2 separate regions of the Homo sapiens genome follow, and region 2 is linked to region 1. A link means that fine-mapping ties the variant in region 1 to the expression of a gene that starts in the linked region. Tissue or cell type: whole blood. Region 1 holds a variant in brackets; the other region holds the start of a gene. All regions are shown on one strand. Distances are from middle to middle.

What was found. PIP is the estimated chance that this variant, and not a neighbour inherited with it, causes the effect.
Region 2: it holds the start of LINC01011, and the variant in region 1 is fine-mapped to the expression of LINC01011 in whole blood (TOPMed, PIP above 0.99).

What each region holds. Positions count from the first base shown.
Region 1 is chr6:2,947,003-2,955,180 of GRCh38, reverse strand. SERPINB6 (serpin family B member 6) reads left to right here. Exons shown (of 7, transcript NM_004568.6): 4 at 472-589; 5 at 1,995-2,137; 6 at 6,112-6,267; 7 at 6,482-7,022. The coding sequence ends at 6,883. Among named protein-coding and RNA genes, the nearest start is that of SERPINB6, 20 kb to the left of the region's middle. The variant C/T (reference allele first, on the strand shown) is at 3,260.
Region 2 is chr6:2,983,586-2,991,763 of GRCh38, reverse strand. LINC01011 (long intergenic non-protein coding RNA 1011) reads right to left here and starts at 3,797. Exons shown (of 3, transcript NR_026856.1): 1 at 3,733-3,797; 2 at 2,031-2,236; 3 at 593-1,895. NQO2-AS1 (NQO2 antisense RNA 1) reads left to right here. Exons shown (of 2, transcript NR_186367.1): 2 at 1,753-2,428. RefSeq lists enhancers at 618-1,425, 1,703-1,862, 1,426-2,235, 2,236-3,045, 3,046-3,855 and a silencer at 2,433-2,852.

The DNA.
Region 1 (8,178 bases):
TCTCGCTCTGTCGCCCAGGCTGGAGTGTGGTGGCCTGATCTCGGCTTACTGCAACCTCCGCCTTCTGGGTTCAAGTGATTCTCCTGCCTCAGCCTCCCAAGTAGCTGGGATTACAGGTGCATGCCACCATACATGGCTAATTTTTGTATTTTTAGTAGAGACGGGCTTTCGCCATGTTGGCCAGGCTGGTCTCGAACTCCTGAGCTCACACGATCCACCCGCCTCGGCCCCCCAAAGTGCTGGGATTACAAGTGTAAGCCACAGTACCTGACCTTGACTTAGTTTTTAAGCTAGGATTAAATATAGCTAAAGCTAGGAAGTTGTAGTTTAGGTTAAGTCCTCATATTTATTTGTAAATTATGTATGTCAATCATAAAATTATAGATTTTCTGACTTGGTGCAATGAAGAAGTAGGCCGTTGGTGTTCATCATTTTTGTAGCCAGGCAGTTATGTCACTCTGTCTATCCTAGTCTTTTAGAGATTCCTGCCAAAAATTCTACCAAGCAGAGATGGAGGAGCTTGACTTTATCAGCGCCGTAGAGAAGTCCAGAAAACACATAAACACCTGGGTAGCTGAAAAGACAGAAGGTGAAAATGTATTGTTATTCTACTTTTGTAATAACCTCTTAATCCATTTTATTGTCAGTTCCTTCACAAGACTGTCAATTGTAAACAGGAATGATTTTTTTTTCTCTGAATAACTGCAAACTTAAAAAATCTGCTTCTGAAATCAGTTGCCATTATTTGACATTTTGGAAATGCTCAATGTGTTCTGTTCTCTCTGATTTCTCCCTGTTTCCTTGGTGTACCCGTGATGCCTTTCAGTGTTTGGTATACCTCTTCTGGATCAATCCACGTTTTAATTTTGAGGAGGGGGTTAGTGTGTTAATGTTAATATAGTTTTTCCTTTCACAAGTAACATAAAAAATTCGCAGTGTGGATCTCAAGCTGCCTCCCTCTTGGGTAGCACAGTCTACAGTTGCCATGCATTGCTGTGGGACACTGGGTCACGCCCTGGTCTATCTGTGGTTCTTAATTTAAACTTTTTTTTTTTTTTTTTTTGAGACAAGGTCTCCCTCTGTCACCTAGGCTGGAATGCAGTGACACAATCACAATTCACTGCAGCCTCAATTTTCTTTTTTTTTCTTTGAGATGGAGTTTTGCTCTTATTGCCCAGGCTGGAGTGCAATGGTGCAATCTTGGCTCATTGCAACCTCTGCCTCCCAGGTTCAAGTGATTCTCCTATCTCAACCTCCCAAGTAGTTGGGATCACAGGCACGTGCCACCATGCCCTGCTAATTTTTGTATTTTTTAGTAGAGACAGGTTTTCACCATGTTGGCCAGGATGATCTCAATCTCTTGACCTCGTGATCCACCCGCCTTGGCCTCCCAAAGTGCTGGGATTACAGCATCAATTCTTGTGCTCAAGCGGTCCTCCTGCTTCAGTCTCCCAAGTAATTGGGACTACAGGTAGCACCACCATGCCCAGCTAATTTTAATAAATTTTTTTTTTAAGAGACAAGGCCTCACTATGTTGTCCAGGTTGGTCTCAAACTCCTGGCCTCAAGTGATCCTCACACCTCAGCCTCCCAAACTGCTGGAATTATAGGTGTGAGCCACTGTGTCTGGCCTAACTGTTCTTTAAGCTTGTAAAGAACATCTTCTGACTGCCCACCTTTTTGATAATCCTTTAAGTTCTTGTCTTTAAGTCATAGGCACCCATGATTGCTTCTTATCTCATGTGTTAGGAACTCATCCTGCATAATTAACGCATATTTGTTCACTTTGTGTGTTTTATTCAATTGATGATGTTTTTCGTACCAGAAGATTTTGTTGTTTTGCTTTAAGGACACGTATCCCTTTATATTTGGGGGACAGTGGAACTCTCTATCCGTGCACTTGACTGCTGAAGGAGAAGGCCCCAGCCGATTCCTGATGTGTCGGGGATCCGCAGCCGCCCCTATCTAATGCGGTCTTGAATTCTTCCGCTCAGGTAAAATTGCGGAGTTGCTCTCTCCGGGCTCAGTGGATCCATTGACAAGGCTGGTTCTGGTGAATGCTGTCTATTTCAGAGGAAACTGGGATGAACAGTTTGACAAGGAGAACACCGAGGAGAGACTGTTTAAAGTCAGCAAGGCGAGTAAGGGGCCGTGACAGGAGCAGCGCCTGTGTTCACACGAGCGTCTCCGGCTCGGGGCCTCCCGCGTCTGCAGCCGTGGGGCCTTTCTGTCCCTGCCCCTCCTGCTTGACATCCATTGGGTGGCCTCGTGTCCCTGGGCGCCTGGCATCCGCCCTGCCACCTACAGGGCAAGTCTGAAGCTGCAGCCCTCAGGCTCGATCAAGGTCTTAAAGCTCAGACTCCAGATATGGCGTGCCATCTTCTAGCGGACATTTCCTCCTTTTCTCTAGCTTCATTCCCATCAGGACCTACCCACTCCTTTCTTTCTGGCGGCGTCCCGGGAAGCCCCGCTACCGCGCCTCCTGCTGGCCTCCGTGCCACACTGCAGGAGCGGAACAACTCAGCCTGCTGAATTGAGGCTGAGCAGGGAGGACTCTCTGACAAGTGCCAGACACGTAGCTGGTGCTTAGTAAATGCTGAACCGATGAGTGATATTCAGTCCTCTCTTGATAGTAAGGATAAGTACAGATTTTTGTTTTAAAACAACCAAACCAAACATGTAGATAGACACTGAGATTAACCACCTCCAGCGTGGAAGATGTCATTTGCTGATGGCCCTTTATCTTCCTCTCACTGAATCTTCTTTATTGTCTCTTGTTTTGTTTTTCTTTAACTATAGAAATTTTTGAACATAGACAAAGTAAACAGAATAGATTAATTACAGTGTATTCTTGATCATTGACCATAGTTAGATCTTCCAGGCTAACTTGAACTTGAGCCTTCAGTTTTTCAAGAAATTTATTTTCATTGTCTGTTCTCCTCGCAATTCAGAAAGAATTATTTTCTTTGAAGCTTTATTCTGAAATGAACTGTGCTATTTTCCCCTGGCAAAATAATTTCTCTCTTTAAAATTTAATGATTAACAAGATGTACAAGGGCTTTGACTACAGATAACAGAAACCCCGGTTCACCATGGTTTATCTCCTAGGAGCTCATCTCCCCTGCTAGGAGGTCTGGAGGCAGGTGAGACCTGGGCTGGTCTGGCACTGGGGCGATGATCCCAGGGAGGCGGCTCCACCATTCTCAGCACGTCGCCTTCTTCCTCATGGTCACAAGATGGCTGAGCTGGCTTCAGCAGT[C/T]CCGGTGGCAGGGAGGGGGAGGAACAAGGGAGGGGAGGGGAGCCTAAACCTTCCCCTTAGTGGTTCTGCGTTTCAGAAAGGGAAAGCTGCTTTCTATATGGTGTAGGCCAGAACTATAGGTCTTGTGGGTTTGGGGAGATGTGGAATCCCGTCATGCTTTCTGAGTTCTGCAGTGAAGAAGGGTGAAGGAAGGGGCTGCAGTATTGAGCGTACCAGCCTGAGGCCAGAGGTGTACCTCCAAGGGCACAGATTTTGAGTTGATACAGATTCTTATTTTAATTTCATTACCTTCTATATAAACTGGAACTTGTCTATATAATTGTGTATTTAGTGAATCATTCAGTCACTAAGGTTAGATCTTTTTATATTGCAAGATTGGAGGCTTTGGACCCTGAAGGGGTGCAGGGAGGAATTACTGAAGGCAGGGGTCAGCAAACTTCAGCCTACAGCAAAGCCAGCCCACCACCTAATTTTTTTTAAAGGTTTACTGAAACACAGCCATGCTTATTTTTTTTTTTTATTTTTTATTTTTTCCAAGACAGAGTTTCTCTCTTGTTGCCCAGGCTGGAGTGCAGTGGTGCCATCTCGGAACACTGCAGCCTCCGCCTCCCGGGTTCAGGTGATTCTCCTGCCGTGGCCTCTTGAGTAGCTGGGATTACAGGTGTGTGCCACTATGCCCGGCTAATTTTTGCATTTTTAGTAGAGACGGGGTTTCACCATGTTGGTCAGGTTGGTCTCGAACTCCTGACCTCAGGTGATCCACCTGCCCGGGCCTCCCACAGTGCTGGGATTACAGGCGTGAGCCACCACGCCTGGCCCATGCTTATTTACTTACTTATTTCATCCTGTAACAACAGCTGAGTCGTTGTGACGGAGATGGTACATGTAGCCACAAACCGGAAAATAGTTCCTGTCTGGTCAGTTATGGAAGAAACATGCCTACTGCTGGCCAAGGAAATGAGTGGGGCAGCCGAGGCCCAGGAGACTGCTCTAGCCAAAGGCTAAGGGCCAGCCCAGGCGAGCCTCTACCACGTGAAAGCAGAAAGCTGCCGCCGCAGTGTATTTTATTTATTCCATTTAACACAGAAGAATGTGCTACACCAGAGACTGGGGACCATACGGCGTCTTTGACTGTGCCTATTGCAGGGTATTTACTCAACTCACAGGAGCAGCTCCGAGTCAGGAACTGAGGGGGATTGTTGGATGGGGTGTGGTTCCTGGCCTCCAGTCTTTCTCATTGGCTGGCTGGGGTTGGTGACCAGTGCAGTTTTTTCTGGTGAGATGTGTAAATGTTGCCTGGCCTTTTTAGCATCCCAGCTCATTAATTCGTTTATGCATTTATCATTTATTCAGCAGAGATTGACTGAGTGCCTTTTTTTTTTTTTTTTTGAGATGGAGTCTCGGTCTGTCTCCCAGGCTGGAGTGCAGCGGTGCAATCTTGGGTCACTGCAACCTCTGCCTCCCGGGTTCAAGTGATTCTCCTACCTCAGCCTCCCGAGTAGCTGGGATTACAGGAGCGCACCACCATGCCCAGCTAATTTTTCTATTTTTAGTAGAGGTGGGGTTTCACCATGTTGGCCAGGCTGGTCTCGATTTCCTGACCTCAGGTGATCCGTCTGCCTCAGCCTCCCAAAATGGTGGGATTACAGGCATGAGCCACCATGCCTAACCTGACTGAGTGTCTTCTATGTATCAGGCATGGTGCTAGGTATTTTTCAGCCATGCACAAAACAAGCAAAGCATGCTTGCCCTGGTGAAGCTTATGTTTTCTTGGGGGAGAGACAGCAAGCATAAATAAGAAAATAGGAGCATATTAGACAGTGGTAAATGGTACAGAGACATACCAAGGGAGGGGATAGGAATCTGTGTTTGGGGTGGGAGTGTAGGGTCAGGTAAGATCTATCAAGGACAGCTTCTCTGCCAAGGTGGTTTTTGAACAAAGACCGTAAAGAGGCAGAAGTTCACTCTCCAGGTTCTGGAGGACAAGCTTACTGCGTAGAGATGAGATGAACTGGGTTTGCTGGCAGTGCAGTGAGGAGGCCTCTGTGACTGTAGCAGATAAGCAAAGGGAGAGGGAACTGGGGACGAGCTCTTATCACAATTCCAGGCTTTTTAGGGACTTTCAGCTCCTGCTCCGAGTAAATGGGGAGCCAGGGAAGGGTGTCCAGCCAAAGAACAATGTGATCTGCCTTAGGTTCTACCGGGCCCCTCTGGCCACTGTGCTGGGAACAATCACAATCATATTATCACAATATTCCAGGGCTAGGCTGGTAGCAGCAGAGGCAGAAGGAACAGGTCAGATTTTGTTATATTCTCGAGGTAGAGCCAATATAATTTGCCAGTGAGTCAGACACAGGGTGTGAGAGAAAGACAGGAGTCAGGGGCACTCCAGGGCTTTTGACCACTGGACAGTGGCACTGCCCTCAGCTGAGATGGGCAGAGTTGCAGTAGACAGAGCCGACTTGGAGGATCTACGGAGTGCCGCATTACAGGTGGCGCTGGGAGTTTCTTTTATGTCCAAACATAGGTGCAGGTGGGCAGTAAAATGCAGGAGGCCCAAGGACAGGGCAGAGGCCCAGGCGGGAGGTAAATTTGGTGTGATATTGTGTTTAAAGCCATGAGACTGAATGCGATCAATGAGAGGAAAGACACGTTGGGTTTGGGCCCTGGGCACCCCAGTTTCTGGAGGTTGAGGTAATGAAGATGGCAGAGCAGGCGCTGCCGGGTGTTCTGGAAGCTGGGGAGAAACCGAGCTGCGTTTCTCCCTGCAGAGAGTGGCCAGCTCCGACACATTTGTCCCATGTGTCAGTGGGGTCTTGTTTCAACTTGATGTTTATCTGTTTTCTTTGTAGAATGAGGAGAAACCTGTGCAAATGATGTTTAAGCAATCTACTTTTAAGAAGACCTATATAGGAGAAATATTTACCCAAATCTTGGTGCTTCCATATGTTGGCAAGGAACTGAATATGATCATCATGCTTCCGGACGAGACCACTGACTTGAGAACGGTAACAGCTAAGCTGTGAGCGAGGCGTGCTAGCAAGGAGCCACTCGGGGGTGTCTGCTGTGGCTGCTGTCCCTACTTTGCGGTCAGCCGTTTAACACTGGAGCGCTGCTGACCATAGCCACGCTGCCACTGGTGTCTGGCATCCACAGCATAGCACAGGGCCCTGCTGGGCAGCAGCACCCTGGGTCTTAAAGTCTTCAACTGTCTCCCTCTAGGTGGAGAAAGAACTCACTTACGAGAAGTTCGTAGAATGGACGAGGCTGGACATGATGGATGAAGAGGAGGTGGAAGTGTCCCTCCCGCGGTTTAAACTAGAGGAAAGCTACGACATGGAGAGTGTCCTGCGCAACCTGGGCATGACTGATGCCTTCGAGCTGGGCAAGGCAGACTTCTCTGGAATGTCCCAGACAGACCTGTCTCTGTCCAAGGTCGTGCACAAGTCTTTTGTGGAGGTCAATGAGGAAGGCACGGAGGCTGCAGCCGCCACAGCTGCCATCATGATGATGCGGTGTGCCAGATTCGTCCCCCGCTTCTGCGCCGACCACCCCTTCCTTTTCTTCATCCAGCACAGCAAGACCAACGGGATTCTCTTCTGCGGCCGCTTTTCCTCTCCGTGAGGACAGGGCAGTCTTGGTGTGCAGCCCCTCTCCTCTCTGTCCCCTGACACTCCACAGTGTGCCTGCAACCCAAGTGGCCTTATCCGTGCAGTGGTGGCAGTTCAGAAATAAAGGGCCCATTTGTGGGATGCCGCATTCACTCCGTGTGTTTGTGTGTCTGCACGGGAGATGTTTCCTAGGATCTGAAATTGCTGCTCTGGGTCTGGGTTATGTTAGTAGGGGCGGCAATGACCACCTAGCTCACCCTTGCTTGGGGGAGGTGTTGCCCACCCCCCACAGCCATGGGGACCCCACGACTTCATTGTGGGCAGACAGCTGCCCTTGAGGTCGGTGGTGTGACTCTTCCTTGGCACAGGAAGATACATGGTGCTTCTCTGTCTCCTCTACTCAGTAGTGGAGTCTCATCCCACTTCTAGGGAGAGAATGGGGTGAAATGGGGTGCTACAGGGAGGTGCGGGAAGCTCAATTCTAAAACTACCGCAAGCTCTCCGGAAGCCTGCATGGAGGTGGGGGGAGCAGGTGAACCAGATGAGGGTGACAGCAGTCCCCTGCCCTGTGGGTGTTTCTGCTTCCCTGAGGACTGGTGGATCACATGCTTGTTCACACACACACTGCCCACTTCCAAAAATGTCAAATGATGGTAGTGTTCCCTTTATAGTAACGGAGTTTACGGCGACTTCACGAGTCAGCACCAGGTGCCTTTCTGTTTCACTGAAGTATTGCAGACAGAAAAGACAGCTAAGGTTTCTGGGGCCATTTGTGTTACTTGCTGGAAATGTGATCCCTGCACCCAGCCATCCAGGAGCAGAAGGACAGGTCAGGCTCAGATGGAGCCACACAATGTTCCAGGGAGGCAGAAAGGACTTCTTTTGCAGGCAGTGGGAACCTGGCCTCTCCTCCTTTACCTGGTGCAACTGTGCTCTCATATGCTCTCACTCTTCCTGGTTCTCTTTCCCCTTAGTGTCCAGGCTGGGGTGACAGATGGGACTCAGGAGCAGCAGGAGATGTGGCAAGGATGAGTGGGAGAGCTGGGGAAAGAAGGGCCAGATAGTGCTGGTTTTGTCCCTCATACTCCCTGCTCTGCACAGCATTCTTGTTTGTTTGTTTGTTTTTGAGATGGAGTCTCACTCTGTCACCCAGGCTGGAGTGCAGTGGCACGATCTCGGCTCACTGCAAGCTCCACCTCCCAGGTTCAAGCCATTCTCCTGCCTCAGCCTCCCGAGTAGAGTAGCTGGGACTACAGGCATGCACCACCATGCCCAGATAATTTTTGCATTTTTAGTAGAGACAAGGTT
Region 2 (8,178 bases), 37 kb before region 1:
TGCCTCAGCTTCCTGAGTAGCTGGGACTACAGGTGAGCGCCATCACACCCGGCTAAATTTTTTATTGTATTTTTAGTAGAGACAGGGTTTCATCATGTTGGCCAGGCTGGTCTCCAACTCCTGGCCTCAAGTGATCCACCAGCCTCAGCCTCCCAAAGTGCTGGGATTACAGGAGTGAGCCACCATGCCCAGCCTAGTTTAGGATTAAAAAATTGTTCTATGCCTTAATGCCAAAGATAGAACATTGTAATAATTATTTTATTACAATTTATGTAATTATTTTAATTATTTTATGTCTTTAAGAAACAATTTGCCTCTGTCATATCTCACATTAAAATGGAAAAAAAAATTCCTTATGTTTGTGTTCTAACAAATTAAAAGTTGTGTATCATTGTGAATTCAAAAGAGAAGCAGGTAACACATGAACTGGGATCATGGAAACCAAACCAGAATAAAGCAAGCCCAGCACAATACTATCTTGGAGGCTGACCAGTTAGAAGGTCTTAAACATAATATATTTTAAACAAACAGTTAAAGGAAAAAGATTAACCTAGTGTTGTAACCGAGCGAGTTACAGAGAAACGCCACACTCTGAGACGAATTCAGGAGTCCTTTATTAGCCGGCAGCCGAGAGACAGCTAGCGCTCGAAATTCTCTTGGCCCCGAAGAAGGAGCTAGATTTTCTTTTATACTTTGGTTTAGACAGGGGAGAGGGGGAGTCTAGTTGAAACAATCTTACAGAAGTAAAGTAGGCAAAAAGTTAAAAGGATAAACGGTTACAGGAAAGTAAACAGTTCCAGGTGCAGAGGCTTTAAGTCTATCCTAAGGTGATGGACGCCGGGCTTTGGGCGTTATCAACCGGACACAAACGCAGGGGCTCTGGGTGCTATTAACCGGGCGAATTCCTGGGAACTGCGGATATAGCTTGCCACAGTATCTTATCAGTTAATTGCATTCTTGATGTGCTGGGAGTCAGCTTGCACAAGTTAAGTCCTTGAGGAAGGGGGTGGGTAAGGGGCTGCGAGTGAAGGAGTCACGATGGAGTCCGTCTGGCTCTCTTAGCTAAGGAAGAGTCACTTCAGGTTAAAACAAGGTAGGGTATCCCACTAGAAGCCTCACATCATTAAGCTTCAGTCAGGCAGGCATTCCTTTAAAAAGTGTTTACTGAGTACCTTCTCTATGTCAGTCACTATTTGGGGCATAAAGGACTCACTTCTCCGCAAAAACAAACTCTGATCCCCCGGTCTCCTCGAGTCACGGAGCTTGCAAGCTAGTGGGAAAAATTGGGAACTGGTGCAAAGAATGACTGCAAAATAAATTGTGGTCATCTTGAAGACATATGCGTGCATGTGTGCGTGAAGCTTTTTAAATAGAGAAGCTTTAAGTGGGGGAAATTTGCTGACATTACACGATTTCTTCTCTTAGTGCAAATGTATACAGCCTGTCTTTTTGAAGGGGTCACGGTAGATAATTATGCTCTGTTAACCTCATTTGTTGTCAGGGAAAATTAAAACTAAGGGTAGTGTCAGTAGGAATCTTGGTTCCTGCCAGTTTTGTTGTTTGTTAGCATATCTTCCTTTACAGGTAGTATGGTTTCATTTTCGTAAAAATGCTGCATAAACGTGGCTGGGTATGTTACTCATTGCAGTGCCTGCTGATTTCGCTGGACCCCACCCTGCTTTTGCTGCCCAATGCGATAGCATATGGGACAGAGCTAAATTCCTACTCAGCTGTAACTCTGCTTATTTTCAGGAAAAAGAATGCCTGTGTTTCGAAGTTCCTTCTTAGGACGAAACCAGCTGAAGCTGGCGAAATCCAAGATGGCGCCTCTGAAGAGCCTCTGGCTTTATCATCATCCTGTTCTCATGCTAAACAACATGTCGCCATGACAACGACTGGAAGAGACCAAGAAGGGACAGAAAAAAAGGGGTTTCTTGATTCCGGGAAAAATCTCCGTTCTTTCCCAAGGAAAGCACGAATATTCCCCCCCGTGCTCTTAATGCCCAGCCCCTTCATTAAAGACACCCTACCTCTGAAACTTCCCAGCTCTCACAAGCTAAGTTGATTTCAGATCTTCCAATTCCATAGCCATTGAATACAGCCTGCACTGCTTGACACACTCCCTTTCGGTTTCGTGCATTGGCCTCACCACGCAACAGGAAACAACCCTTTTTGGGATAACCGGGACTCCCGGTAACATTTCCATATATACATATCTTAATGTATGCAAGGGCGTCTGGGGGAGAAAGAAGCAGCACATTTCATTCTTTGCTTTCTATAATACTGGATTGCTTGAGTTTGTGACACATGTTAACATTTGCAACATTTTTAAACTAAATTGTATGTATTATAGAACAGTCCTCTGCGCTGAGCTTGGACTTAAAGTGGAAAGGCTTACATTTGCAGAATTAAAAAAAGCATCGAAACATTCTGTGGCAGGAAGTCCTGCGAGCCTCCTCGCCCCAGCCCGGTTTCCCGCGGGCCCCAGCCTCATCCCCCAAGGCCCCACCCTGAGAGCCCCCAGGTCCCAGCCGCGTCCTCCTGGACCCCTCCCAGGCGTGGCGAGCCGGGTCGCGGGAGCGCTCCGCCACCAGGGGACAGTGCGGCGCCGACCGTGGGCTGCTGGCTCGGCCGAGGGCACCCAGGCGCCCTCCGCTGCAGCGGGCTGGTTGCAGAGGGGCGGGCTCTCGCCAGGCAGCAGGCGCTCCGGGCGCAGCTGGGAGGAAGGAACGCCCCCGGGAGTGGGCGGCGGCCGAGGGACCCTGCAACCGTCCTCCCTGGAGGAGGCCCCCGCAGCTCCCGCAGCCCCCCTCATCCCGGACGGGCCGGGGATTGGGACTGGCCTGGGGTCTCCTACTCTCCTACTCCGCGCAGGAAGTAGCCCCTTGGCAGGACCGGCGGTGCCTGCTGCTTTCAGGAGCCCCGAGCCGCTTTTGTCTGGGTGCAGCTCAGCTCACATCCCCGATGCAAGTCTTTCCCGGCTCGTCTCCCCTTCTTCCCGGAGTCCATGCCTTGCTGTCGGTGACTCATCCCACACTGTGCCCTGCGACTCACCCTGTCGCTTTCTCTGTTCATCCGGGAGCGCGGCGCCATCTCCCTCCAGCCCCGCCTCCCCTACAGTGCTCCGTGCTGAGGTCGCACGTTCTCTCCTCCCTCCAGCTCCCTGGCTCTTGGCCCTTCCCAGGCCACCAGGCGACAGCAGCCTCCGCCTTCATTTCCCTTGGTCATTTCAGGCGCATGCTTGGAGGATTTCAGGATCTGACTCAGCTTCCCCGCCATGCATCCCTCCACCAGCATCCAGTCACACCTCTGCAGCCTTCAGTGTCCTGGAAAGGACTGACCAATCTGACCCATTAGAACCTACCCAGACCAATTTGAAGGCCACTGCCCCTCAACCGTGGCCACCCACTCCTGCCCCACCTGGAGCCCCAAACTGCTCAGTTCCTTCTCTAAAACTCTGCCCTCTTTTGTTTGTTGTGAATAACTGTCTTCCCTGGTTCTTTCCACACCTCTCTGGCCTCTCCTTGTCTTTTTCTGGTTCTTTTTTTCTCTATTCTCCCTTATGCACTGGCCTTGCTGGAGGTCCCTGCTCTCCCTGCAAAACCTCACCACACCCTTGACTTCAGCTATATCCATTTCACCTCACGTTGACATCTGGTGCCTAGACCTCTCTCCCGAGCCTTCCACACCATGCCAAAAATGAAATTCATTTTCTCCTCTAAATTTGCTCACCTTCTTGTTTTCCCAATCTTATTTATTGTCACAGCCATTCCCCTGCTGGTCCAAGTCAGTAGTCTGAGAGTCATGCTAGACTCCTCCTTCCTTATCTACCCATCCACCAATCCCCAAGCCCTGTCTATCCTCCTTTTTTTTTTTTTTTTTTTCCAGTCAGAGTCTTGCTGTGTTGCCCAGGCTAGAGTGCAATGGCACGATCTCGGCTCACTGCAATCTTTGCCTCCCGGGTTCAAGTGATTCTCCTGCCTCAGCCTCCTGAGTAGCTGGGATTACAGGCGCATGTCACCACGCCCAGCTAATTTTTGTATTTTTAGCAGAGATGAGGTTTTGCCATGTTGGCCAGGCTGGTCTTGAACTGCTGACCTCGTGATCCGCCTGCCTCTGCCTCCCAAAGTGCTGGGATTACTGGCATGAGCCACTGTGCCTGGTCATCTATCCTCCTTTTTAAATAGCTCTGCCATGTGTGCCTGTCTCCCCTGACAGCTCACCCTCATCCTATTTGTCCACATTGCTGCAGAGTAGTCTCTTCCATACACCAGGAGTTCCCAACCCCCGGGCCACAGACCTGACTGGTCTGTAGCCTGTTAGGAACCAGGACACACAGCAAGAGGTGAGCCACCAGTGGGTGAGCTAGTGAAGCTTTATCTGTATGTGCAGCTGCTCCCCATTGCTTGCATTACCACCAGAGCTCTGCCTCCTATCAGATCAGGCAGCATTAGATTCTTATAGGAGCACAAACCCTACTGTGAACTGCACACATAAGGGATCTAGGATGTGCGCTCCTTATGAGAATCTAATGCCTGATAATCTGCCGTTGTCTTCATCACCCCCACATGGGGCCAGATAGTTGCAGGAAAACAAGCTCAGGGCTCCCACTGAAAATAAAGTGCACAAGAAGTGTCATGTGCTTGAATCATCCCGAAACCATCCTCTGCTGTCCAAGGAAAAATAGTTTTCCACAAAACCCCTCCCTGGTGCCAAAAAGGTTGGGATGGTTGCCATACATAACTCTGATGATGAGACCACGAAGCTCAGAATCCTCCAGAGGCTCTCCACTGCCTGTAAGATGAAATAAAATTTATGGGTGTGACTTATCCATAAGGGCCCAGTCTAAACTGCCTCATATTTAATTATATAGTAAGCTATTTGTTTCCTCAAACGTATATATTTTGGCCCATTTCCCAGTCTCCTAGGTTGGAATATGCTCTGTGTGTCACCTGGCCAGCTCATGCTCTTTCTCATTCTCAGCTCAAGTGTTAGGGACTCTATGACACCTTTCTTGATTCTCCCAGTCAGACATATTGTTGCTACTTTTTCTTAACACTTATCCTTTTATCCTTGGCACCACTAAAGCACATATCACATCAGATTTCACTTGTTTGCACATCTGTCTGGCATCTTGAGCCCAGGGACCGTGTCGCCTGTCTTCATGTCCCCAGGCCCTAGTGTAGCTCCCAGCCTATAGTGAGTGCAGAATAAAAGTTTGTAGAATGAGGCCAGGCGCGGTGGCTCATGCCGGTAATCCCAGCACTTTGTGAGGCCAAGGTGGGCAGATCACGAGGTCAGGAGTTTGAGACCAGCCTGACCAACATGGTGAAACCTCGTCTCTACTAAAAATACAAAAAATAGCCGGGTGTGGTGGCACGCGCCTGTAATCCCAGCTACTCAGGAGGCTGAGGCAGGAGAATCGCTCAAACCTAGGAGGTGGAAGTTGCAGTAAGCTGAGATCGCGCCACTGCACTCCAGCCTGTGCAACAGAGTGAGACTCTGTCTCAAAAAAAAAAAAAAAAGTTTGTAGAATGAATGAAACAATTAGTTACACCACAGTTAGTGAGTCATCGATACTTCATCAAGGCTGGGTATTTCGTATAATAAAGTTATTAAAGCTGATAAGCAAAGATCAAGTTACCCAAAGAACAGCACTGCCGGTGATCTAAAGGTCTTTGCCCTCAGGTTGCTTAGGTAACGGAAAGGATAAGAACTCCCCACTGTTCTGGGGCGGATCTTACATTGCTTTTGGAAGAGGCAATAGACTTGGGAAAGAAAGGAGTGTGTGTATTGAGGTATTGAGGGAATGGTTAGGTGGGAGGAGTCAGAGAGGAAGGCTGCAGTAGCCCCTCAGTCGACCCTGGCTGCTTTGTCCTTGGGGCTCAGTGAACAGATTATCTGTTTTCATGGTAAGGGGTTGGGATTCTCTACTTCAGGTGGGCACCCAGAAAGTGAATTGCTCGCCTTTGTTTAAAAATAATGAAAATGGGCCGGGCGCGGTGGCTCATGCCTGTAATCCCAGCACTTTGGGAGGCTGAGGCAGGTGGATCACCTGAGATCAGGAGTTTGATACCAGCCTGGCCAACATGGTGAGACCCCGTCTCTATTAAAAATACAAAAATTAGCCAGGCGTGGTGATGGGTGCCTGTAATCGCAGCTACTCAGGAGGCTGACACAGGAGAATCACTTGAACCCAGGAGGCGGAGGTTGCAGTGAGCTAAGATCTTGCCACTGCACTCCAGCCTGGGCTACAGAGCAAGACTCTGTCTCAAAAACAAACAAACAAAAAACCCAAAAATAATGAAAATGTCTGCCCACCCTTCACTAAGTAAACATAATGAAAATGCACATCTTGTGCCCTCTTTTGCTTTTATTCTATAATACCCAAGCCTACGTTTTGGAACTAAACCCCACGCCCTTTGTGTGAAAGCCATGCGGATCTTCAAAGGGATCTCTTTAGGGGGAACATTAAGTTTGCCCAAGGAGGCACCCTTCTGGGTCTCCAAGGCCACCTGGCTGCAATGCAGTCCAATTCCAGCCTCTGTCTCCCAGAGCACCCCCTGTGCCAGGGCGGCAGGATCCCAGGGGTGTGTCTACCATGGCACCAGACACACACTGGCTGAATGTAGCCTCGTCATCGCTGAGCCCTGTTCACAACCATTTTTGTTTTCGTGCTTTTTCAGTTTTAGGAGCTTTGTTGTATCCCTGGTCAAAACTACTCTGGTGAAGCTCACTAGGTGTCTCTAACTCGGCACCTGAGGAGCAGTTTTCCTGAGCTCCTCATGCAAATGGACGCCACTCCCTTCGGCAAAGTCCTGGGAGCTCAAGGGAGGCTGCCCAGTCAGCTGCGGCCCATCCCAACGCATTGGGGACCTGCCCACCTGGCTCTTAATTTGCATTTTGAAATGTCACCCAAGTGATTCCAGACCAGATAAGAAGATGAGCTTCTCTTGTTATGGAAAAAGGAAGAGAGACAGAGAGAGAAACCTCTGTTTTGTTATTTAGCTATTCCTCAAATTCTTATGACCAGTGATGATATTTTTTAAAAAATCTCCAGAACAACACAATTATTTAAATTTAACTCAGATTTTATTTTAATTTATTAATTTATTTATTTTTGAGATGGAGTCTCGCTGTGACACCCAGGCTGGAATGCAATGGCGCAATCTTGGCTCACTGCAACCTCAGCTTCCCGGGTTAAAGCGATTCTCCTGCCTCAGCCTCCCAACTAGCTGGGATTACAGGTGCCTGCCACCACGCCTGGCTAATTAATTAATTATTATTATTTATTGAAACGGAGTCTCACTCTGTCACCTGGGCTGGAGTGCAGTGGTGTGATCTTGGCTCACTACAACCTCTACCTCCCAGGTTCAAACAATTCTCCTGCCTCAGCCTCCTGAGTAGCTGGGATTACAGGCACACACCACCATGCCTGGCTAACTTTTTTTTGTATTTTTAGTGGAGACAGGGTTTCATCATGTTGACCAGGCTGGTCTCAAACTCCTGACTGCAAGTGATCCGCCTGCCTCGGCCTCCAAAAATGCTGGGATTACAGGCATGAGCCACCGCACCTGGCCTTAACTCAGATTTTAAATATGAGAGTATCAACTTGTAGGGGTGGAAGAGGTGTGATGCCTCTCCTTACACATTGTATGGGTCACAGCCAAGGCTCCTATCTCAAAAGACACAGTCCCACCTCCAGCTCCAGTTCGTCTTCTCATTCATCCCAGATAAGTTTCTTGAAAGAGTATTCTAAGACAACTCTCTCCATGTGTCTCCAGGCCTGGATCTGCCTCAGTTTTTGCTCCTCCCATCTATCGTCCCTTGGTAACTAACGACTTGGGAATGAGAAATGCCCTTTTCAATTCTGACTCTCCTCTTCCTCTCAGCACCAGCAGCGGATGCTGACCTGGTTCTCTGTTTCTTCTGTCTTCTCCTTCTCTGTCCTCTTTGCCATGTGCTCCTTTTCCAGCTGTCTTTTAAAATGTTTGTTGCTGGATCAAGGAGTTTCTCCCCCAGCTTCATTTAGCATCGATAGCTCTTACCTTTGTCGTAATTTCTACCTGTCCTCTGGACATCTTCACCTAAATGTTCACCAGCACTCTAAGCCCCTTTTGACTCAAACTGATTATCTGACCCCTAAATCTGATCCTCCTCCCCCTATATACTCTTTCA